3 separate regions of the Homo sapiens genome follow, and regions 1 and 2 are each linked to region 3. Evidence: fine-mapped QTL for protein levels in blood plasma. A gene starts in region 3. Each other region holds a variant in brackets. All regions are shown on one strand. Distances are between the middles of the regions.

What was found. PIP is the chance, under the fine-mapping model, that this variant and not a neighbour inherited with it causes the effect. Protein levels are from antibody-based Olink assays in UK Biobank. Linkage for the fine-mapping came from a reference panel and not from the study's own genotypes, which makes the PIPs less certain.
Region 1: its variant is fine-mapped to the plasma level of the ERBB2 protein (UK Biobank, PIP above 0.99). The variant lies in the coding sequence of ERBB2. If it changes the protein, the assay may bind it differently, which can mimic a change of level.
Region 2: its variant is fine-mapped to the plasma level of the ERBB2 protein (UK Biobank, PIP above 0.99).

What each region holds. Positions count from the first base shown.
Region 1 is chr17:39,713,502-39,716,499 of GRCh38, reverse strand. It overlaps ERBB2 (erb-b2 receptor tyrosine kinase 2), which reads right to left. Exons shown (of 27, transcript NM_004448.4): 10 at 1,141-1,214; 11 at 964-1,054; 12 at 561-760; 13 at 67-199. Among named protein-coding and RNA genes, the nearest start is that of MIR4728, 11 kb to the left of the region's middle. The variant G/T (reference allele first, on the strand shown) is at 1,206.
Region 2 is chr17:39,824,554-39,836,956 of GRCh38, reverse strand. IKZF3 (IKAROS family zinc finger 3) reads left to right here. Exons shown (of 8, transcript NM_012481.5): 2 at 4,806-4,859; 3 at 7,469-7,570. It also overlaps the pseudogene KRT8P34. Among named protein-coding and RNA genes, the nearest start is that of IKZF3, 34 kb to the left of the region's middle. RefSeq lists an enhancer at 1,062-1,561. The variant C/T (reference allele first, on the strand shown) is at 7,104.
Region 3 is chr17:39,699,703-39,708,773 of GRCh38, reverse strand. It overlaps ERBB2 (erb-b2 receptor tyrosine kinase 2), which reads right to left and starts at 8,710. Exons shown (of 27, transcript NM_004448.4): 1 at 8,463-8,710; 2 at 1,633-1,784; 3 at 240-453. The coding sequence starts at 8,535. RefSeq lists enhancers at 3,108-3,980, 6,727-7,226, 7,227-7,728.

The DNA.
Region 1 (2,998 bases), 11 kb before region 3:
GTGGTGAGGGGGTCTGAGAGGAGCCCCATGCACCCCTCCAGCCACCCTCTCCTCCGCCCCTCATACCCCTGCAGTACTCGGCATTCCTCCACGCACTCCTGGCCCCGAAGGAACTGGCTGCAGTTGACACACTGGGTGGGCCCTGGACCCCAGCAGTGCCCTCGGGCGCACAGCTGGTGGCAGGCCAGGCCCTCGCCCACTGCAGTGAGGAGGAAGGGACCGCAGGGGACTTTTAGGGGAGGCCCCAGGTCCAAGTGAACCAGGGAACTGGCTGTGGGCATGGCTGTGGGCTGGAGGGGTGGGGACAGGTGGGGCCGATGTAGGGAGAGGAAGAGTTCTGAGATTTCAGAAACAGAGGGGGAGGGAAGGATGCCAAGGCAGGTAGGACCCAGCTAGAGAAGCCATGCCAAGAGGCCAAGCCAGCCAGAGCTGTGCTGAGTCAAGAAGGGTGCACAGAGACGGGCAGTCTGCACAAGTCCAAGAACGCTGCTGCCAGGGCCCCCTGGGCACTGCTGTGTGCTGGCAGATGGGGAGTGCGCACACTGGGCTCCCTGTCTTACCACACTCGTCCTCTGGCCGGTTGGCAGTGTGGAGCAGAGCTTGGTGCGGGTTCCGAAAGAGCTGGTCCCAGGGCACCGTGTGCACGAAGCAGAGGTGGGTGTTATGGTGGATGAGGGCCAGTCCACTGCCCAGTTCCCTCAGTGAGCGCAGCCCCAGCCAGCTGATGCCCAGCCCTTGCAGGGTCAGCGAGTAGGCGCCACTATGGGAGAAAGGTGGGCACCTTACCACGGACCCCTTCCCGGTCAGCAAAGGCTATTCTCATCTTCCTCCATCCCCAGCACACTCTGCAGACTTTCATGGAAAGGTTACTGCTACAGGAGTACTCCCTCAGGCCCAAAGCTTCCCACAGGGACTCCTCCCTGGGACTCCTCCCCATCAGGCCCCCTCTTTCTCAGTGCTCACTTGTGCAGAATTCGTCCCCGGATTACTTGCAGGTTCTGGAAGACGCTGAGGTCAGGCAGGCTGTCCGGCCATGCTGAGATGTATAGGTAACCTGCAGGCAGAGGGTGAGATTAAAGGAGTGGGGACAGGACAAGGACTCCCAGCCCCTGCAGAACAGGATGCAGAGACAGAGCCCACCTGTGATCTCTTCCAGAGTCTCAAACACTTGGAGCTGCTCTGGCTGGAGCGGGGCAGTGTTGGAG[G/T]CTGGGTCCCTGGAGGGGTCAGGAGAGGAGTCAGCAGGGCCAGGAACAGGGTGGACATCACTCCCAGCACTGGCCATGCCAGCCACTCCCCACCATGAATGCCTTCACTCAAACCCTTTGCCCATCGAGCCCAGCTGTTCCCATCCTGGGCTTCAAAGCCCAGGCCTTAGTTCGGCAACATCTATCAAAACAGTATTTATATCCTTTGATCTAGAAATCTTATTTCTGCCTGGGCTCAGTGGCTCACGCCTGTAATCCCAGCACTTTGGGAGGCCGAGGCGGGCGGATCACGAAGTCAAGAGATGGAGACCATCCTGGCCAACATGGTGAAACCCCATCTCTACTACAAATACAAAAATTAGCTGGGTGTGGTGCCGCGCGCCTATAGTCCCAGTTACTCGAGAGGCTGAGGCAGGAGAATCACTTGAACCCGGGAGGCAGAGGTTGCAGTGAGCCGAGATCACACTACTGCACACCAGCCTGGCGATAAAGCGAGACTCTGTCTCAAAAAAAAAAAAAAAAGAAAAGAAATCTTATTTCTAGGAATGTGGCCTAGGGAGACACTGGCCCATGTTCCCAGAGCCACACACAAAGTGGAACTGTTTGTAAGAGTGAAAATGGAACATGATCTAAATGTCTATTAGTAAATAGGGGAGCTGTTAAATAAAACCCCGAGCCACCCAGCCACATAATAAAAACCAACATTTAGGAGCACCTAGTATCTGCCAGGCACTGTTCTAAGAGCTTTACAAATATTAACTCATTCAAACTTTATAATCATCTGGCCAGGCATGGTGGTATAACCATCTTATGAAGTTGGGACTGTTCTTGCCCCCACTTTACAGATGAAGAAACTGAGGCACAGCACAAGGGTCACATGCCTAGTAAGTGGTAGAGCCGGGTTTCAAACCCAGGCAGTCTGGCTCCCAAGTCTGGGCTCTTAGCTGCCTCTCCTTGCCGCCACCTGCTCTGCAGCTATTGAAAGAACAAGGCAGTTCAATGGGAACTGTCATGACCGGCTCTCAAAGCAAGGTGCAGACAGTGCTCCCTATATGTTCCCATTTACAGAAACCAACCTCCCCACCAAAACGACGAAAACCACACTTCACTGTGTGTGTGTCTACAGATGCATAAACGGTCTAGGTGAACACACACACTGTTAACCATGGCCCCCTCTGGAAAGGGGAGTGGAGGTAAAGGAAGTGTGAAAGGGAATTTTTTTTTTTTTTTTTTTTTTGAGACAGGGTCTCATTCTGTCACCCAGGCTGGAGTACAGTGACATGATTTCAACCCACTGCAACCTCCACCTCCCAGGCTCAGGTGATTCTCCCACCTCAGTCTCCCTAGTAGCTGAGACTACAGGTGCGTACCACCATGCCCGGCTAATTTTTTGTGTTTTTTTGTAGAGATGGGATCTCACTATGTTGCCCACGCTGTTCTTGAATTCCTGGGCTCAAGCAATCTTCCTGCTTCAGCCTCCCAAAGTGCTGGGATTACAGGTGTGCACCACGGCGCCTGACCCTTTTTTTTTTTTTTCTTTTTGAGACAGGGTCTCACTCTGTCGCCCAGGCTGGAGTGCAATAGCGAAATCTCAGCTCACTACAACCTCCACCTCCCGAGTTCATGCAATTCTCCTGCCTCAGCCTCCCAAGTAGCTGGGATGATAGGCGCATGCCAGGAAGCCTGGCTAATTTTTTATATTTTTTAGTAGAGATGGGGTTTCACCATGTTGGCCAGGCTGGTCTTGAACTCCTGACCTCAAGTGATCTGCCTGCCTCGGCCTCCCAAAGTGC
Region 2 (12,403 bases), 130 kb before region 3:
TATCTCAAAAAAAGAAAAAAAAGGCACCAGAAATGTTAAATATGTGGGTAATTAGAAAGTACTATTTTTTCATTTTAATCTTTAAAATACAATATGACTATTCAAAGCAAGAATTAGCATTGTATGGTAAGGTTTAAAGTATATGCAGATGTGATACATATGACAACTATAGTATAAAGGTTGGAGGGTAGGAAATGGGCCTAAATGGTTGCAAGCTTTTTACATTTTATGTGAAGTGTATAATTTTAACTCTAAGAAGCCTGGAAAATTAAAGATATATTTTATAGTCCCTAGAACAGAGAGAAATAGACAAATCAACAGTCATATTTGGAGATTTTAATACTCCTTTTTCAGCAACTAAACAACTAGTCAAAAATTAGTATATCCATAGATCTGAATGACATTGTCAACTACCTTGATTTAATTAACATTTATTAAACAGTACACTTGAGAACTGCAGAATACCTAGAAGCAGTTTCTCCACTACTTATTGAATCTCCCCCTGTTTCTGCCCACCTGCCTCCACTCCCGCCTCCACCATGTCCATCAGGGTGACCCAGAAGTTCTACAGGGTGTCCACCTCTGGCCCCGGACCTTCAGCAGCCACTCCAACATGAGTAGGCCTGGTGCCTGCGTCAGTTCCTCGAGCTTCTCCCAAGTGGGCAGCAGCAGCAGTGTCCAGGGTGTCCTGGGTGCCAGCATGGGTCTGGGTGGAGGCTATGGCCGAGCTGGTGGTTATAGGAGGCATCACAGCCATCATGGTCAACCAGAGCCTGCTGAGCCCCCTTAAGCTGGAGGTGGACCCCAACATCCAGGCCGTGTGCACTCAGGAGAAGGAGCAGATTAAGACCCTCAACAAGTTTGCCCCCTTCATCGCGGTTCCTGAAGCAGCAGAACAAGATGCTGGAGACCAAGTAGAGCCTCCTGCGGCAGCAGAAGACAGCTTGGAGCAGCATGGACAACATGTCCAAGAGCTACATCAACAAACCTCCGTGGCAGCTGGACACTCTAGGCCAGGAGAAGCTGAAACTGGAGGCAGATCTTGGCAACATGCAGGGGCTGGTGGAGGACTTCAAGAACAAGTACGAGGATGAGATCAGTAAGCATACAGAGATGGAGAATAAAATTGTCCTCATCAAGAAGGATGTGGATGAGGCATACATGAATAGGGTGGAGCTGGATGGAGTCTTACCTGGATGGCAAGCTTACAAGATCAGCTTCCTCAGGCAGCTGTATGAAGAGGAGATCTGGGAGCTCCAGTCCCAGATCTTGGACACATCTGTGGGGCTGTCCACGCATAACAGCTGCTCCCTGGACACGGACGGCATCATTGCTGAGGTCGAGGCCCAGTATGAGAAGATCGCCAACCGCAGCCAGGCCAAGGCTGACAGCATGCACCAGATCAAGTATGAGGAGCTGCAGACCCTGCCTGGGAAGCACAGGATGACCTGCGTTGTACAAAGACGGAGATCTCCAAGATAAACTGGAACATCAGCCGGCTCCAGTCTGAGACAGAGGGCCTCAAAGGCCAGAGGGCTTCCCTGGAGGCCGCCATTGTGTATGTGTGGGGAGCGGTCCATTAAGGATGCCAATGCCAGGGGGTCCAAGCTGGAGGCCGCCCTACAGTGGGCCAAGCAGGACGTGGCGCGTCAGCTGCTCAAGTACCAGGAGCTGATGACCATCAAGCTGGCCCTGGACATTGAGATCGCCACCTACAGGAAGTTGCTGGAGGGCAAGGAGAGCCAGCTGAAGTCTGGGATGCAGAGCATGAGTATCCATATGAAGACCACCAGGGGCTACTCAGGTGGGCTGAGCTCAGCCTACAGGGGCCTTACAAGCCCTGGCCTCAGCTATGGCTTGGGATCCAGCTTTGGCTCTGGCGGGGGCTCCAGCTCCTTTGGCTGTGCCTGCTTCTCTAGGGCTGTGGTTGTGAAGAAGATCAAGACCACGATGGGAAGCTGGTGTCCCAGTCCTCTGATGTCCTGCCCAGGTGAAAGGCCATAGCAGCCCCTCCCAGCCTACCCCCTCCCATGGCTTCTCCAGAGCCTGTGGAGGAGGCCACTGTGCAGGGGAGTATAGGGAACAGGAGACCCACCTGAGGCTCAGCCCTAACCCTCAGCCCACCCATGGGGAGTTTACTGCCTGGGATACCCCCCTTGCCCATGCCTCCAGCTACAAAACAATTACATCATTTTTTTTTCCTCCAAAATAAAGCCTCAGCCAGATCTGCAAAGCAAAACAAAACAAACAAAGAAAACCAACAAAAACCAGAACATACATATGTCTCAACTACACATGGCACATTCACCAAGAACACCAGTCTTAATACTTTTAAAAGGACTACAGTCACACAGACTGTGTTCTCTGACTGTAGTGCAATGGAATTTGACTTCAATAACAAGTTAGCTAAAGAATTCCCGAATTCCCCCAAATATCTGGAAATTAAACACTTATAAATAACCAGTGGATCACAGAAGACTCGAGGGAAATTAGAACTGAATTATAATCAAAACATCAGCATTTATGAGATGCAGCTAAAGCAATGCTTACAGGAAAACTTATAGCTTTAAATGTTTACAATTAGAAAAGAAGAAAGGAATAAAGTCAGTCACTAAAATTTCACCTTAAGAGGGCAGAAGCAGAGTAAGTTAAGCCCAAAGTAGAGGGAAGAAGCACTTTTGAACAAGTTCTAGTTTCACTGTGTTGAAACTAGATATATGCCTCCTACCCTATAACCCAGTAATTCCACACCTAGGTATTGACTCAAGAGACATGAAAGCATATGACCACAGAAATACTTGTGCAAGGATGATCATGCTCCAGTCTAATCATGAGAAAAACAAACACATCCCAGTTGAGGGACATTCTACAAAATACCTGACCAGTACTCAAAACTGTCAAGATCATCAAAACAAGGAAAGTCTGAGAAACTGTCCCAACCAAGAGGAGCCTAAGGAGACAAGATGACTAAATGTAATGTGGGATCCTGGAAGGGATCCTGCAACAGAAAAAGGACATTAGATGAAAACTAAGGAAATCTGAATACTTAGATAGTAATAATGTATGAATATATATTCATTAATTATAACTGATGTACCATACTAATATAAGATGTTAATAATAGGGGAAATTGGGTGTGGGGTATATGGGAACTCTCTGTGCTATCTTTGCAATTTTTCCATAAATTTAAAACTACTCTAAAATTTAAAAGTTTATTATTTTAAAAAGGAATATCATAGTAGTTTGACTTATAAATAGCCCAAACTGGAAACAGTCTAGGTGTCCATCAATAGGAGAATGGATAAACAAACTGGGATATTCATATGGAATACTACTTAGCAATAAAAAAGAATGAACTACTGATAAACACCACAGAATGGATGTATCTCAAAACATTATGTTGAGTGAAAGAAGCCTCGGGCAAAATAATTTATACCATATGTCTGTGTGATTCTGTTTTTATGAAGTTCTAAAATAGGCTAAACTAATCTATGGTGGAAAAAGTCAAAACAGTAGTTGTCTCTGGAGTATGTGGGTGGGAATTGACTAGGAAGAGATGTGAGGGAGCTTTTCTGGGATGATGGTAATGTTCTGTATCTTGATAGGGGTTTGCATTACATGAGGATATGCATTTTTAAAAACTCATTGAATGGTACACTTAAGATCCATGCATATCACTGTATGTAAAATTTACTTTTTAAAATCTTGTAAACAGATATTGAATTTTAGTTAATAATAATCATGCTGAAATGTTAGGACTGAGGTATACTGATATCTGCAACTTATTTTGCAATGCGTTGAAAAAGCTGGATCGATGAATGGATTGAGAGATGAATGGGTGGAAACATATGTGAGAAAGCAAAAATAGCAAAATGTTAATTGTAGAATCCAGAGGGTGAGTAATGGATGTTCAACTGTGCAGTTCTTTTTTTAAAATTTTTTATTGATACATAATATTTTACATATTTATGGGGCACATGTGATATTTTGTTACATGCATAGAATATATAATAATCAAGTCAGGGAATTTGGAATGTTTATCACCTTGAGTATTTATCATTTCTATGTGTTGGAAACAATTCAAGTCCTCTCTTCTAGCTATTTTGAAATATATAATACGTCGTTGTTAACTATAGTCACCCTACTCTGCTGTCAAACATTAGAGCTTATGCCTTCTATGTAACTATATGTTTTACCCATTAACTAATCTCTCTTCATCCCCCATTCCCACCCACACACCCTGTCTATCATTCTACTTTCCACCTCCATGAGATCAACGTGTTTACTGTCATATATGAATGAGAACATGTGATATTTGTCTTTCTGTGCCTGACTTATTTCACTTAACATAGTGACTTCCAGCTCCATCCATATTGCTGCAAATGACATGATTTTATTCTTTTTAATTGCTGAATAGTATTTCATTATATATATGTACATATATATGTACATATATATATATATACCACTTTGAACTCTTTTTTTCTATGTGTTCATAATAAAATATTGGGGAAGAATAAAGAATATATGAAATTATTTCTAATGGAACCCACTTTTTGCATATTGTTCTTGGTGTAAGTAGATCTCTGGCAGAAAGTTCTTAGAGTAACATTGCTGCATCAATATTTTTTTTTCATGCTCCTTGAAAGGCTTTTAGGGAGAATATAGAGAAAGAGTAATCTTGCTCTGAAAGAGGAATTCTGCTGTTAAGTTTTCCGAAATGGTATCCCTTATTAAATTTGGAATGCTCAAACCTGTAGAAATGTACCCTAAGTAGCTAATATTTATAACCTCTTTCTTTTCAGATATACAAACAAATGCGGAACTGAAAAGCACTCAGGAGCAGTCTGTGCCCGCAGGTAACATCAGGTCTTTCCTCTCTGGAAATATACCTTTACTAAAAAAAATACCAAAGAGAGAGGAATGTGCTTATTCTGGTTGCAGTAAAAATGCTATGGAAATGTGTGTGTGTTTTTTTTTAAATATGGTTGTCTGTTGCTGATGAAAAAATAACTCATCCATTTAGATCATGTAAGTTCTTTAGCATCTTAGGGCCAAACATACACTACCTAATGTTGATCACTGTTTGTTTGTTTGTTTGTTTGTTTTTGATTTTTCAGCTCATTGCTCTGAAGACAGTTTTTGTTGAATAATATAGTAGCTTGTATTTGAATGACTTGCGATTTTTACTGTAGAACAGTGGTCTGCAAACTTTTTTGTAAAGGGCCAGATAGTAAATATTTAGACTTTGCAGGCCACATATGGTCTCTGTCACGTATTATTTTTTGTATTTCTTACAACCCTTAAAAAATGTAAAAACCATTCCTACCTCTTGGGCCCACACAGAAGCAGGCTATGGTCAGACTTGTACCTCAGGCCATAGTTTACTGATCCCTGCTCTAGAATAAATTATAAACATTTACAATAATTTATTTCCTGAAAATAACTTCTGTGTCCTCCATTGATTAACTCACTGTGTGAATCAAAGCTTACATTATATTACAAAATTTAATTTATCACTGAAATGCCTTTTTGTGTTACTGTAACTTGTAATCACATCTTTCTTTCTTTCTTTTTTTTTTGAGACGGAATTTCGCTCTTGTTGCCCAGGCTGAAGTACGATGGTGTGATCTCGGCTCACCACAACCTTAGCCTCCCGGGTTCAAGCCATTCTCCTGCCTCAGCCTCCTGAGTAGCTGAGATTACAGGCATGCACCACCATGCCTGGTGTATTTTTAGTAGAGGCGGGGTTTCACCACGTTGGTCAGGCTGGTCTCGAACTCCCAACCTCAGGTGATCCGCCCGCCTCGGCCTCCCAAAGTGCTGGGATTACAGGCATGAGCCACCGCACCCGGCCAATCACATCTTTTAACTGAACCTAAATCTCATATTAATTGTTTAGGTGTCCACTATATTTTAGTCATTTCAGGCTTGAGAAAAGTGAACCATTGTTTAGAATGGTATCTTAGAGTTCACAGAGTATACATCATAATATGCAGAAATTAGAAACTTCAGATATTCATAAATCAAACACTGAGTCCATGGTGACCACATTTTCAGGGGCTCTTAGTGATGGGTTTTGTGAAACGTGTTTCTCTTTCGCTCCCGCGTGTGTTTGGTCATGGCTCAGCTGAAAGGAGTGCCACTGCAGAGCTTCTAGTTACCTCCCTACTTCAGCCCAGCCTCAGTGCCACAGGATTCAGTGTCTTTGACTATTTTTTATATTAATGGGAACTCAGCAAATATTTTATTGAAGATTGGGAAGGAGTTAGATAAAAAGAGGGTAACTTTTCAGTTCATTTCTTCTGCTATCATCTTTTTGTTAAGCTACTATGCCTATATGTGAAAATAATTCCAGTTGCATTGTTCCTTTTTCTTCTAGTATTATCAATATTTATTATACATTTCTCTTAAACTTATTTTGTAACAAGTTTGCTGTTTGTTTAAGCATGTCTTTATTATGTCTGCTCCCTTTCACTTATGAACTTTAATAACACTTTGTATTTCCTTTATTTAATCCTTTGTCTGAGCCTACCATGTGTTAGAGTTGTGGGCTTCTCTTATCTATATCTCAAAGTATGAGCTCCTTGAAGACATAATGACTTATTCATATCTGTAGCCTTGTCAACATTCAGTAAATGTTCAAACAAATAAAGAAACTTGGGGTCCAATATGTTTTCCACAGAATCACATTTATAATGTGAACAGAAGGGAAAAACAGAATTTGGCATACAGAAAGCTTACAGATCTTCCTCCTAGGAAAGCATCTTTCCCAAATTAGGTTATGCCAGTGTTTGCACGCTTAGTATTTCTGGTCACTACTTTGTCATAAATAGCAATGGCATCCTACTGAATATCGTGAGATATACCAATGGAGAGATAGTTTTTCTCCAGAAGGAACATGAGTGCCCTTTAACTCAGATGAAAGAAATATTCAAGAAAGTTGTGTGTATTCAGAGGGTACATGAACCCTGGGCATATTTCTTTTCTCTTTTTTTTTTGTTTGAGACGAAGTCTCACTCTGTCACCCAGGCTGGAGTGCAGTGGTGCTATCTTGGCTCACTGCAACCTCCACCTCCCGAGTTCAAGTGATTCTCCTGCCT[C/T]AGCCTCCCGAGTAGCTGGGATTACAGGCATGCACCGCCATGCCCAACTAATTTTTGTATTTTTAGTAGAGATGGGGTTTCACCATGTTGGCCAGGCTGGTCTCGAACTCCTGACCTCAGGTGATCTGCCCATCTCGGCCTCCCAAAGTGCTGGGATTACAGGCGTGAGCCACTGCGAACCCTGGGCTTATTTCTAAACCTCAAGAGTTTTCATGTATACATCCCTTTTGGGTATGTGTGAAGGGGTACTATCTGTCACTAAAGGATTGTGTGAAGCTGAAAGTTAAATGGGGGTCTACTTAATATATATTTATAAAAATCCTTTAACGTTGAACCACATACTTAAAATTCCTTTTATCTTTTAGAAAGTGCAGCGGTTTTGAATGACTACAGTTTAACCAAATCTCATGAAATGGAAAATGTGGACAGTGGAGAAGGCCCAGCCAATGAAGATGAAGACATAGGAGGTGAGCCGTAGTGTGCAGACTAAACACTGATGCCTGTAGATATTGCTTAGGCTTAGTGTAGAGAAGAAATCAGCTCTCCAAGGAAAACTTGCAATTGTAGGTTTAGTTAGGAGTGATTCTGTTTTGTTAATTTCACAAATATTTGCATTTCATAGTTGTAGGTTATCAGCAAATTTTGAGAATTTAAGGTGCTTATCCAGTGTTCCAATTATATTAACTTCACTTAAAACATGATGTTTGACTATTTTCCATTATAAAAGTAATACATGTTTATTGTAGAAAGTTTGTCTGGGGTGTTTTCTGACACCAACAAACCAATTTTCTGGTTTTCCGACAATGACTTGGTGTCCAACAATTCAATTCAATTATTATTATTATTTTTTTTTGAGACGGAGTTTCACTTTGTCGCCCAGGCCAGAGTGCAGTGGCGCAATCTCGGCTCACTGCAACCTCCGCCTCCCATGTTTTAGTGATTCTCCTGCCTCAGTCTCCCAAATAGCCGAGATTACAGGCGCCCACCACCATGCCCGGCTAATTTTTGTATTTTTTTTAATAGAGACGGAGTTTTACCATGTTGGCCAGGCTGGCCAGGAACTCCTGACCTCAAGTGATTGCCAAACTCAGCCTTCCAAAGTCCTGGGATTACAGGCATGAACCACCATACCCAGCCCACTTCAATTCAATTCTGATTGTAATTCCTGATGTTTGCGTAGACCGCACAGGTTACAGGCTCAGTCTCACAGTACTGCACAGTACTCTCCCTACTTTAGACAACAGTCTCAAGTACCAGGTCCCCAGGTTACCTGCACTTTTGTCTGACTTAGCTACAAAATCGGGGACTCCCCTCCACATGTTTAATAATTTGCTAGGATGACTCACAGGACTTGTTACATAACTCATTTATTCATTCCTTTACTCTCAGCTACTCTTCCTCCTTCTTACTGTTTATGCCCAAACTTTCCCACCTTTGGGAGGAATATTAGGTTTGACCACTGCACTGGTCTAGATCGTAGGCAGCAATACTAGTCTAGCAAGCACCTCTCCCTCAGTCAACTCCCATACATACAGGATAGGGTTACACAGGTACGGAACTAGTGGGCTATTTCTACCACTAGGCAATACATCTGCATTCAATGTTAACCCCAATTTTGCCAGATGGGGTAAAGGCACAGCCTGCCTCATCAGGCCCTTAGGAGTTCTGACATAAAGGTTTAAAGCTACGGTTACACTTTCTTGCTTTAGAAATCATCTCTGTTTCTGGCACTTGTAATTACAGTGCTGGTATTGCAACCACTGCATCTGGTAGGAAAGAGAAAGCTGATGTGACAATGTAGGGAAGGAAAAAAAGAATAGTCATCACACCAATATCCTCCTCTTTGGCAAGAATTGTATAGTCATATCAGCATCCTCCCCCACCTCCTCTTCCCTAATCCACCAGAAAAACAGAGGAATCTACCTAGTGGGAACACTCCCTTAGCTCATTTCAATGTGACCTCACACTTGTGCAAATGCATAAACCAACCCTTCACACCTATACCTTACCCTATTTTAGATATCTATCAAACTACTACTCTGAGGAGGATAGCTCTTTGCCCATTGTTTGACATTATGGGCTGTAAGTAGAGTGCTCCTTAGTCTAAAGAAATGTGGCTCAGCCATTCAAATTGGTGCAATATCTTCTGTTCTGGTTCTTTCGTGGTACTGACCATTTGTGTATACAACCAGGTAAGCAAAGCCCCTTCCAGAGTCTGTGTTTATCCCCGTCAAAAACAATTTATAGGTTGGGTGCAGTGGCTCACACCTGTAATCCCAGCACTTTGAGAGGCTGAAGCAGGAGGATCTCTTGAGCCCAGGAATTTGGGCCCAGCCTGGGCAACATGGTGAGGCCTCATCTCTATAAAAAAAAATTATAATAATACAAATAAATTAGCCAGGTGTGGTGGTGTGTGCCTGTAGTCCCAGCTACTCAGGAGGCTAAGGCTGGAGGATCACTTGAGCCTGGGAGGTTGAGGCTGCAGTGAGCTGTGATCCTGCTACTGCACTCCAGCCTGGGCAACACAGTGAGATCCTGTCTCAAAAGAACAACAACAGGCCGGCCGTGGTGACTCACACCTGTAATCCCAGCACTTTGAGAGGCTGAGGCAGGTAGATCATTTGAGGTTGGGAGTTCGAGACCAGCCTGACCAACTGGTTAAACCCCATCTCTACTAAAAATACAAAAATTAGCCAGGTGTGGCGGTACTCACGTGTAATCCCAGCTACTGGGGAGGCTGAGGCAGGAGAATTGCTTGGACTCGGGAGGCAGAAGTTGCAGTGAGCCAAGATTGCACCACTGCACTCCAGCCTGGGTGACACAGTAAGACTCCATCTCAAAAAAAGAACAAAAACAAAAATGATTTGTAGCCCTTGGGACTACCAGCATTGGCTCTTCAATGCAATCCACTTGCCAACTATGTGTGGGGTCTTCCCCCTGGGGAATCTTCCCCATAGTCACCTATAGTAACTGTCTCTCTTATTGGCAGACATAATAGTTTGTTGCTATTTTGTGCCTCAGGAGGTCCAAGGGAAATATGTCCAAATTCAGCCCATCTTCTGCAGTGGCTGTAGCATCCCCCATCCTGTCTACTCATTTTATGGACCCACGTGCTCACCTCAAACACGCACACTGTGATACCTACTAATTGGTTCTGATCAGCTTCCAAATCTGGAAGGGGGGTCTTTTACCGAGCATTGACATGTCCTACTTTAATGCACCCCTCAAATTCCCATAGTGATTTCCACAGGGCTTTGTCCCATATGAGAGTCCCTTTAATATGCCAAGTTTCCATTGCACTCTTGCCTTACCACATGGCCAGGCTGTTGGCCATTGCCCATGAATCAGAAACTGAAACATATGGGCATGTATCACTGTTCAGTTCTTCCATCACTTCTAGGAAAACAGCAGATTATTCAGCTCACCAAGCTGATTTGTTTTTACCTTCTTTAATTACAGTTGTGGTGTTCCAAACAGGATGTTGTCCATTTACCTTAAAACTACCATCCACAGCCAGGCATGGTGGCTTATGCCTGTAATCCTAACACTTTGGGAGGCCAAGGCAGGAGGATTGCTTGAGCTCAGGAGTTCAAGACCAACCTGGGCAATATAGTGAGACCTCGTCTCTACAAAACATTTAAAAATTAGCTAGGCATGGTGGCATATGCCTGTGGTCCCAGCTACTTGGGGGACTGAGGTGGTAGGATCGTTTGAGCCTGGGAGGTTGAGGCTGTAGTGAACCCTGATCGTGTCACTGCTCTCTAGGCTGGATGATAGAATGAGACCCTGTCTCAACAAACAAAAAAACTACCGTCCACAAATCAAGCATCTCTTTGTTGGTCAAAGACTACTTTATAGGGCACTGTCTAAGTGATGATAGAATCCAGCAGCTCCTCACATAGTTCCAAAGTCAATTGTAGGGGAAAAGAGGATCCCTGCCCCTGAGTATATCATCCTTTCATTCCTAAGGTACCATGATTCTCTATAAACTATTTCTATGTTATTATAGAACTCTTCTGGGCAATGCTCTCCCCATTAGAACACTTCTCTGACATCACCCAAGACTTCGTTGATATTTTAGGTTTTAAAATTATTTTTTTGTCCTTCAATCATAAGAGCAATTTCAATTAATATTCAATAGCAGGCTAATAATTTCCCCTCAAATGGAAATTCTCTGGTCCAAAATCCAATTGTTGTCATTGCTGGAAAGTACTCACAGGTTTTTGCCATAAGCCATTACCCAATTCTCACACACCAAGCCTATATTTCACCTACCCTAAGTCATCCCAGGGCCAGATACCAGTCAACCAGAGACCATCTCTATGCTTTAGAGCCCACCAGAATTATTAAAACTAGCCAATCCTAAACTGTTTACCCAGCCCTGCCTTGCCTTTTCCACAGAAACCCCAATTAAGGCTCTGACCTAAGGTTTTTCCTCATTCCTCTTTTCTGCCTCCTGACCAACACTGGTGCTTTCTCCTGTGATCTTGCATAGCACATAATAACCACCTCTCTGGGACCTGTGAATGTGATAAACTTCTTTCTGGGCCTTGTTCTAATTTTCTTTGTGTCCACACTGACTTTACCATATCATATCTGACATGTACATTCTTAAGACACCACTTAACCGTGGCATTTACCATGACCTGGTGTATTAGTCTGTTCTCATGCTGCTATGAAGAAATACCCAAGATTGGGCAATTTATAAAGAAAAGAGGTTTAATTGACTCACACTTCCAAATGGATGGGGAAGCCTCAGAAAACTTACAATCATGGCAGAAGGCAGCTTTTCACAGGGTGGCAGGAGAGAACGAGTGCCAGCAGGGAAATGCCAGACACTTATGAAACCATCAGATCTTGGCCAGGTGCGGTGGCTCACACCCGTAATCCCAGCTCTTTGGGAGGCCGAGGCGGGAGGATCACGAGGTCAGGAGATCGAGATCATCCTGGCTAACATGGTGAAAACCTGTCTCTACTGAAAATACAAAAAATTAGCCAGGTGTGGTGGTGGGCACCTGTAGTCCCAGCTACTTGGGAGGCTGAGGCAGGAGAATTGCGTGAACCTGGGAGGCAGAGCTTGCAGTGAGCCAAGATCACGCCACTGCACTCCAGCCTGGGTGACAAAGCGAGACTCCGTCTCAAAAGGAAAAAAAAAAAAAAGCCATCAGATCTTATGAGAACTCACTCACTATCACAAGACCAACATGGGGGAAACCACCTCCATAATTCAATTACCCCATTATTCAATCCCACCGGGTCCTTCTCACAACACGTGGGGATAATGGGGGTTACAATTCAAG
Region 3 (9,071 bases):
TGGGGGCAAAAACCCAGCCTGCATTCTCACGATTGAATTATATGTGCTGACGCAAGCTACAACTTCCCAGGAAGAAGGGGAATCTTTTTCCAATCTTCTGAGGGCGTCTTCCCGGGCTCTGCCTGCGTCTGCCCAGAAGGGACACCATTTCTAATGCACACAAAGCCTCCCCCTGGTTAGCAGTGGCCCTGGTCAGCTCTGAATAACCAAGAGAAGGTTTCAATGACGGTGAAGGCCACCTGTGAGGCTTCGAAGCTGCAGCTCCCGCAGGCCTCCTGGGGAGGCCCCTGTGACAGGGGTGGTATTGTTCAGCGGGTCTCCATTGTCTAGCACGGCCAGGGCATAGTTGTCCTCAAAGAGCTGGGTGCCTCGCACAATCCGCAGCCTCTGCAGTGGGACCTGCCTCACTTGGTTGTGAGCGATGAGCACGTAGCCCTGCACCTCCTGGATATCCTGGGAGGGGGAAGCAGAGTGGGGCTGAAATAGGAACACTGCCACCCCCCAGGGCCTCCCTGGGGTTCCCCAGTACTTGGAGATCTTGGGCAAGGCCCCCAGCCACTGAGCAGTCCTGTTCCCGCTTAAATAAAACGATAAAATAGAGATAAAGATCACGCCCTACCTTGCCTCACCAGATTCTTATATGATCAAGAAAGATAATGGTGGGGGGGCATTTCATAAACTCCGAACAGGTGCCCTGCCCTCTCTGTATCTCAGTTTCTTCATCAGTGAAAGCAAAGGCCTGGATGGGATGGCGTCTGCAAATTTTTTTTTTTTGAGACGGAGTTTCACTCTTGTTGCCCAGGCTGGAGTACAATGGCACGATCTAGGCTCACCACAACCTCCGTCTCCCAGGTTCAAGTGATTCTCCTGCCTCAGCCTTCCCAAGTAGCTGGGATTATAGGCATGTGCCACCATGCCTGGCTAATTTTGTATTTTCAGTAGAGACGGGGTTTCTCCATGTTGGTCAGGCTGGTCTCGAACTCCCGACCTCAAGTGATCTGTCCGCCTCGGCCTCCCAAAGTGCTGGGATTACAGGCATGAGCCATCGCACCCGGCCGGCGTCTGCAATTTGACAAACCAAGCATGTGGCCCCATTCCAGGGTCTGTGGACACGATCCAGCAGGTTGGTTTCCACTCTCCCTCCTGTTCATAACCTTTTCACAGACATTTCTCTTCTGAGCTTCACAACTGCTCCCAATATACAGATAGGGAAACTGAGACCCAGTGAAGCTAAGGGGGTGTAGGCCACATTCATAGGGCTCGTCAGTGGCAGAAGTGGGCCTGTAATCCACCTTTCTCACCAGCCCTTTCTTCTGCTGTAAGTGGGAGAGGGATAGTGGCTGGAGCAGGTGGACAGGGGACATGATCATGCTGGCAAGAGAGCACAAGATTTAGCGGAAACACAGACGCATCCCATCCAGACATGACCTCGGCCAGCCACGTTATAGAGAGAGTCAACTGATTCTGCAGTAAAATGAATGGGGGTTAGATGTTAGAAAGGACTTCCTGGTTGAGAAACCACAACAAGAGAGGAAACAGAAGGGCAGGGCACCTTCTTCTGCCACCCACCTGTAAACAGAGGGCTCAGCCCAGCTGGAGGCAGGGCCTGGCTGGGTTGCCCACGGGCCTCACCTGCAGGAAGGACAGGCTGGCATTGGTGGGCAGGTAGGTGAGTTCCAGGTTTCCCTGCACCACCTGGCAGCCCTGGTAGAGGTGGCGGAGCATGTCCAGGTGGGTCTCGGGACTGGCAGGGAGCCGCAGCTTCATGTCTGTGCCGGTGCACACTGGCAGGAGAGAGCAGATGGGTCAGAGGACACTGGCGGGGGACCTTCTCAGACCTGGCCACCCCATCCAAACTCACTCCAAGTCATGCCACCTCAGACAGGGAGAAGCCTGACTGAAGGACCCCTCCGCCCATGTCCCTTGCACACTGCAGGTTTAACAGCAGGAGAAAGCTTGCGTGCTTGGGAAGTAGAGGGATTTCAGGGGAAAGGCTTCTTCTGACTAGGCCCACCCTGTGCATTCAGAGGCTGCCCCAGCGTGCCAGCCCTGGGGAGCTCGCCCGCCAGTACAGGGTGTTGGCTGGCAAAGAAAGGCTTCCTTTGTCCCAAAGGCACAACTCAGGGCAAAGGGGTAAAAATCCCCCAAGAGAGGCGATGACGAATCATGAATCTTCTGGATACCCCCTGCCCCTCTCCCAAGCAAACAAACTCGGTGCATTCTCCCTATGCCATTCCAGCACACCCACATGCCAACCTCTTGGCAAGGGATCCACACCCCCGTAATGCCACCCAGAGAGTGGGGAAGGAGGGTCAGCTGGAGTTGCAGCTGAGGCATGGGACAACCGGGGCTCTGGTCATTGCAGAGACCTCTGGGAGTCCCCCATGAAGAGAAAAGGAGCGTCAGATTCCAGTTGTGGGCATCTGGACCCAGGCTGCAGATCCCAGGCCAGGGTGAAGCATGCGCCAAAGGTTCCTGCGCTGGCACCCTCACCCTGGCCACCTCCTCAGGGCAAGACTCCAGAACCAGCTGGCAGAATGTGTGCCACGAAACTGCTGCCACAAAGGCACTACGTCAGCCCTGCATACCTGCCCAGCGCGAGCCATCAGCCATGGGGCATAGGGCTGAACTGCCACACCTGGCCCACTTGGACCCCAGCCTGGTATCCCTGAGACCAGAAATGCCCACTAAGGTCAGGAATACTAGAGGAGGTAAAGCACCCCTGGTGAGGGGCGCCGGGGTAGCAGCTCACACCAGGCCTGCCAGTGAGGGGAGATTAAAGTGCCCAGTTGAACTTGTTTTTCTGCTCTGGTGAGATGAATCACCTGGCGTGTCTTGCCCAGGAGATCGGAAGGGTGGGGGCAGAGGGCACCCTCAGGCCCACAGGTGCCTGAGCTGCCCAGAATTCCTGCCGGTCACTGCTCCGCCTCCCACAGGCTACATGCAGATTCAGGGACAGCACAAGGGCTGGCTTGGGGTCTGACACCAGAGGCACTGCTCTCCCAGCAAGTTGGAGCCTAAGGTCAAATCCTAGGGGGTAATACGAGGTACCCCCTGCCTTCAGATTGCTGGGAGAGGCTGGTAGGGCAAGCCCCCAGGTTCCCTGCCTGGGCCAGTGGCCAGTGGCCACAAACTGGTGGTCTCCTAGTGATACTCAGAATGGCCTCTATTCCCACCTCTCTAGGCAGATAAGGACAAAGAGGGAGGAACAGGAGGGAGGAACAGAAATAGAACTCAAGGGTCCATGTCCCTGAGGGAGGCCTCCCCACTCCATGCCTCACCCACTTGCACCCCCTCCTCTTCCCCACACTTCCTCCCCCAACAGACTCCCAAGAGAAACAGGAGCTGGGGGTGGCAGGCCAGGCCCAAAATAACGCCCTGCTGCCAGGACCTCCCCCGGCCTCAGCCCTTCAGCTGCTTTATAGACACAGCTGTCTGCAGGCCCAGACCCCAGGCCCTGGCCCAAGCCCAGGGTCTCCACAGGGCTGGGGCAGGGTCCGACTCCACCCCCTGTAGCCCTTTTCAAGGGATACCAGCTGTGGCCGCCAGGCAATAGGAAAACAACAACAATGGGGAGTGGGGGCCGCCACAGTAACTGAGCTGAGCACCTACTGTGTGCCTGGCAGGCACTCTCGGTGGATCTGCATAACATGCTCCAGAGACTGGGGCTGCAACCTCCATCTTGCAAAGAAGACAACTGAGGCTGGCAGGGGTTAGCTCTCGCCTCATAAAGCTTGTGAGCAACAGGCAGGACTGGAACTCAGGCTGGCCTGCCTTCAGATCCCACATTCCTTCCACTAGGCCTAACTGCACACACACAAATCCACCCCACACCCCACGCCAACATAAATACACACTAATTCTCCCAATGCCACCGATAAACACCACAGGCTCTACGGAGGGCAGGGTGGCTGGGCTGGGTTGGGCTGGAGGGTCAGAACGGGTGGTAGCCCCACCCCACTAGTGAGTTTGTTTACCTGATTTGTGGCCAATTTGAGTCTGATTAAGAATCTTAAAGTGTTTGCAGACAGGTGGTAAAATTGGTACCCTGAGAACGGTTCCCAGGGAACTGGAGGCTTGCTGGCTAACACCCCCACCAGCCTACATGAAGTCAAGAAGGTCTTCCTGACACCTCCCTCCCACTCTCCCATCTCCTTACCATTGTCCCCATATCTGCCCTGTCCCATTGGTTTTCTTTTTTTGAGATGGAGTCTCGCCCTGTCGCCAGGCTGGAGTGCAGTGGCGCAATCTCGGCTCACTGCAACCTCTGCCTCCCGGGTTCAAGCAATTCTCCTGCCTCAGCCTCCTCAGTAGCTGGGATTACGGGTGCCTGACACCACACCTGGCTAATTTTTGTATTTTTAGTTGAGGCGGGTTTCACCATGTTGGCCAGGCTGGTCCTGAACTGCTGACCTTGTGATCCGCCCGTCTCGGCCTCCCAAAGTGCTGGGATTACAGGTGTGAGCCACGGCACCTGGTCCCCGTTGATTTCCTGGGGGGTAGGTCCTAATTCTACCCAGGAGTGTCCTTGTCTCCAGGACCCTGCCCCTCAGGAACCCCAACCTCCAATTCTCCAGAGCAAAGACAGTATGAGGCAGGACCAGCCACAGGGAGCGCTAGATAAGTGTCTGCTGAGTGAATGAATGAATGAGTGGATGAATGAAGTCCAGTCACGAGTCTCCGAACAAAAGGGACCAGTTGAGGTCATGGAATCCATCTCTCTGCTCAGAGCTGGTCACAGTCCTTCATGTCTCTCTGGACTCTGGTGGTCAGGACTTGACCCCAGTCCTGAGGTTTCTCTCAGGTGGGTTCTCTCCTCCCCACCAGCTTGCAGCCCCAGCTGCTCCTCTTGCTCACAGCAGAAAAGCCAATACTTCCCTTGGTTTCCATGAATACTACAGTAAAATGACCTGTGTCCCCAAAGCTCAGCTCTCCCAGACCCATAATGTCACAGCCCATTCAAGTGACACTGGGATTCCCCGACCACAAACACCTGGTGTATCAGGCCTGACATCAGACCAGGGCCTGGGCCCAGGGTCTTTAGTTGAGAACCCTAGCTCAGCTGCTCACTGAGTGATCTTGAGCAAGTTCCCAGACCTCCAGGGCAGAAGCTAAATCGGATTCATCTCTATGCCCTGCAGTACCTGCAACTTGGTGAATATTTACTGACCTAAACTTGGCTGTAACAGCTCTTACTCCCTCAGAGGAGGTACATGAGAGTTAAATGAGGTAATGAATTGCGCAGCCATCTGTAAACATGACGAGGCTTTGTAAACAGAACTGGGACAACACAAACATTCGCTAGAATAATTCTCCCACTCCTTGAAAGAGTACACATCCCTTACCCCACCTCGGCTCTCTTCCCAGGGGGAGGATGGGTGGCCAAACATAAGATGGAGATGTCACTCTAGAGGGGCTTCTCACAGGTGGAGGGCAGGGAAGGAATCTCTTTCCAGATCATTCCATCACCCAAGGACAGGCACAACTACCCTGGGCCCCACCCCAGCCCTCCCAGCCGCAGCCCCACACTGGCCCCTCACGCTGACACTTCAGCTGTCTCTCTCACCCACAGCCCTGTGTGTCAACGTGGCCTCTGTCCCCTCCTGCCCGCAGCCCCCTGTCATGCTGGTAGGGCCCAAAAGGAAGACAGGCATTGGCTGGACAGGAAGGGAGAGGACTCTGAAGTCAAGAGGGAACCTCAGGGCCCCCAGCTCAGCTCCACTTTCTACAGCCTAGAGAAGTGGATGGAAAGGTCATTCGCCTGAACAAGAGGAGCGCTTCTCCTCCCATCTGGCCACCTGCCTGCCCCTAAGGCTTTGTTCAACCCATTATTGTTGGCTGGAATAAGACTCTAACCACCTCTTAATGCCTCCTCTTCAGAGTCCAAAAATTCCCTGGACATTACTGGGTAGCTGGGAGCCTTGGATAAGTTGCTTCATTTCTCTGAACTTCCATTTTCTCATCTGTGCACCTACTTCACAGGACTGTCACAGAGATTAAATGAAAGCATGGATAAAAACCTAGCATATAGGAAGTACACCGTACATTTCTTAAAAGTTAAGACAAGACAGGTTCATACAGCAGGAATATGGGTAATCCCAAACCACGAGAAAATTAAACATGCTTTGTGTTTGACTTTGGAATGCCACGTATTTTTTCTTTTTACATTTGATCCCTATCTTTTCAATTGTTTTTTTCTTGACAAATAAAATGAGTACTTTCCCCAAGTATAGTAAAGAGAGGAGGCTGTTGGAAGAATCATACTGGAATTAAAATATGAAGGAGTTCTGCAAGATTAAAAGGATGTATTTGCTGCAATTTGTAAAACCCATACCTCTAAGAAAGGATTTCAGAAAAATCCTGACCCCTCTGGGGCTCCCCCTAGGCCTCCCCTTCCCCCACATTCCTGCCCCAGACCTCACCCCTTGGGTAAAATCTGGGTGCTGGAGGCAGCTGGGTGGTATACTTTTTTTCTGAAACGGAGTCTCACACTGTCACCCAGGCTGGAGAGCATTTGCAATCACAGCTCACTGCAAGCCTCAACTTCCTGGGCTCAGGTGATCCTCCTGCCTCAGCCTCCGGAGTAGCTGGGACTACAGGCACGTGTAATCACATCCAACTAATTTTTGTATTTTTTGTACAGAGTTTTGCCTTGTTGCCCAGGCTGTGCAATGACTTTTTAACTAACTCCTGCACAACACAATCAATAGTGCAGGTTGAGGGGTGAGGACATGAGGAGGCCCCATCCAGAGAACCCAGCCCTCAAATCCAGCTCTGCAGCAACTGCCATTCCCTGATCAACTCCCAGCCCAAGGTGAGGAAGGGCAGCAGCTCAGCCTGACAGCTCAGTATGGCCTCACCCTTCTCATCAGAAGATGAGAGGTGAAGATGCTTGTCTGGGAAACAGGGAGGGCAAGGATGTACTCCCTGGAAGAGAGGAACCTTCTTCCTCAGCAAGAAGGCGTGGCCATAGAAGGCTACCTCCCTCTGTTTATGGCAGATCTGGCCCAGCACCTTAAGGGAGTTCCTGCAGAGGACAGAGTTCAGCCTGTGTCCCCAAGTCAGCAGAGAGACTGCTGTTTGGCAACACAAAGCCCAGACACACAAATACAAAGACCACACAACTGAGGAACACCCTGGCGTAGACCTGCAGAGATAACACGGCCATGCACTCACTCACAGAGGGCCCCTCGGGCAACACACAGCCACGATGACACCCACTCCCTCCCCAGACCCTCTGACCTATGGAGACCACCCACGACTCCCAGAACACTTTCATTTTGTCTCCCCTGCAGCCCAGTGACTCAGGGAGCAGTGTCCCTCATTGCTCCAGGTGCACTCATCCATATAGCGATTTCGAATGCATGGTTGGGGGTCGCACTGCCTGGGGTCCCATCTTGACCCCACCACTTACTAGCTGCTACTCAACCTCTGGACTGCTACTCAGTCCAGAATGCTGGCAGAACTTCCACTATAGGGGTGTTCTAGGATTAAAGGAGAATGCATGCAAAACACCACAAACAGTTCCTGGCAGAGTATACCTGGCCCAGGCTATATGTTAGCTTTTATGATTAATGCACACAGGTGGACAGATGGGTCAGGATACACACTGCCCCCACTCACCCTTCCCCACGCACAGCACCAAGGAAAAGGCAGCAGAACAACGCAGCCCTCCCTAGGCTCCCATCTGGCCTTATTTCTTAGCTTCCTTCTCTGGGAACTCTCCCACTTTACACCCCAAGAAACCCACCCCCACCCCTCCATGGTCCACGCGCTCCAAAAGTCACAGAGCACAGTCCCTAAGCTGGCCCCAAGAATCTGTTCAAAGCAAACGTCTCCCCCGCCCCCAACCCAGACCCCAGCAAGAGGCCACCCTCCGGGCCACCCTTTCCTCCCCGGCTCTGGTTGGGACAGGTTGCTATGCCACCCTCCACTCCACCACACACACACACACCCGACCCCGCCAGAAGCAGGAGCAACCAAACCAAAATCGTCTGAAGGGGAGCGGGGAGGGGCTGGAGGAGGGGCAGGGCAGAGGACCCCCCCAAGGAATCCAGCCCAGGCCAGTCCGGAGGCGGAGGCTGCCAACTGGAAAGGCTTTGAGAAAGCTTGAGGGGGCTCAAGAAGGGGGGAAACGCGCGCGCGCGCTCTACGCAATACACCCTTTGCGGGAAAACTTTCTGAACAATTTCAGAGAACTTCTTTGACAAGTTCCCGGAGCCCCTCGGAGCCTGGAAAGCGCCAGTCTCTTGGATGGGCCATCTCGAGCCGCTGCCGTGTAACTGCCCCCTCCCGCCCGAGGGCCCCAGGGCCCGGCTGCCCTGAGCGTCTCGACTGTCCACAACTTCGGGATAGGAGAGCTCGTCCGGGCCCCTCTGGCCCCGCCGGCCGCGGGACCTCGGCGGGGCATCCACAGGGCAGGGTCCCGCCGCTGCTCCGTCCCCTCCCCACACCAGACCCACCTTGGGTGCTCGCGGCTCCGGGGGGCAAGAGGGCGAGGAGGAGCCCCCAGCGGCACAAGGCCGCCAGCTCCATGGTGCTCACTGCGGCTCCGGCCCCATGGCTCCGGCTGGACCCGGCTGGGAGGGCGCGGGGCGCGGGGTGCTGCGAGGGGTGGGGGCCGGGCGCGCGGCGCAGTAAAGGGCCCCGTGGGAAGGGGCGCGCGGCTGCCCGGGGGGCTCCCCTGGTTTCTCCGGTCCCAATGGAGGGGAATCTCAGCTTCACAACTTCATTCTTATACTTCCTCAAGCAGCCCTCCTCCTCCACCTCCTCCTTCTCCTGTGATTGGGAGCAAGCGCGCTCCCAGCTCGCCCCCTCCAACTGCATTCCAACAAGTCTGGGAGTGGCAACTCCCAGCTTCACTTTCTCCCTCTCTTCGCGCAGGCCTGGGTGCGTCCCTCCTAGCGCCGGGACGCCTGGGTTGCCTGCAGCCGTTCTCACACTTTTCCTCGGAGAATCCCTAAATGCAGAGGCTGGTGACTCTGCCCCCTCCCCCGGAGTCCGGGATAAATTCCCTAGGCTGCCACTCTTAACACCCTTTTAAGTCTCAGGTTTTATCTTAAACTTTCCTG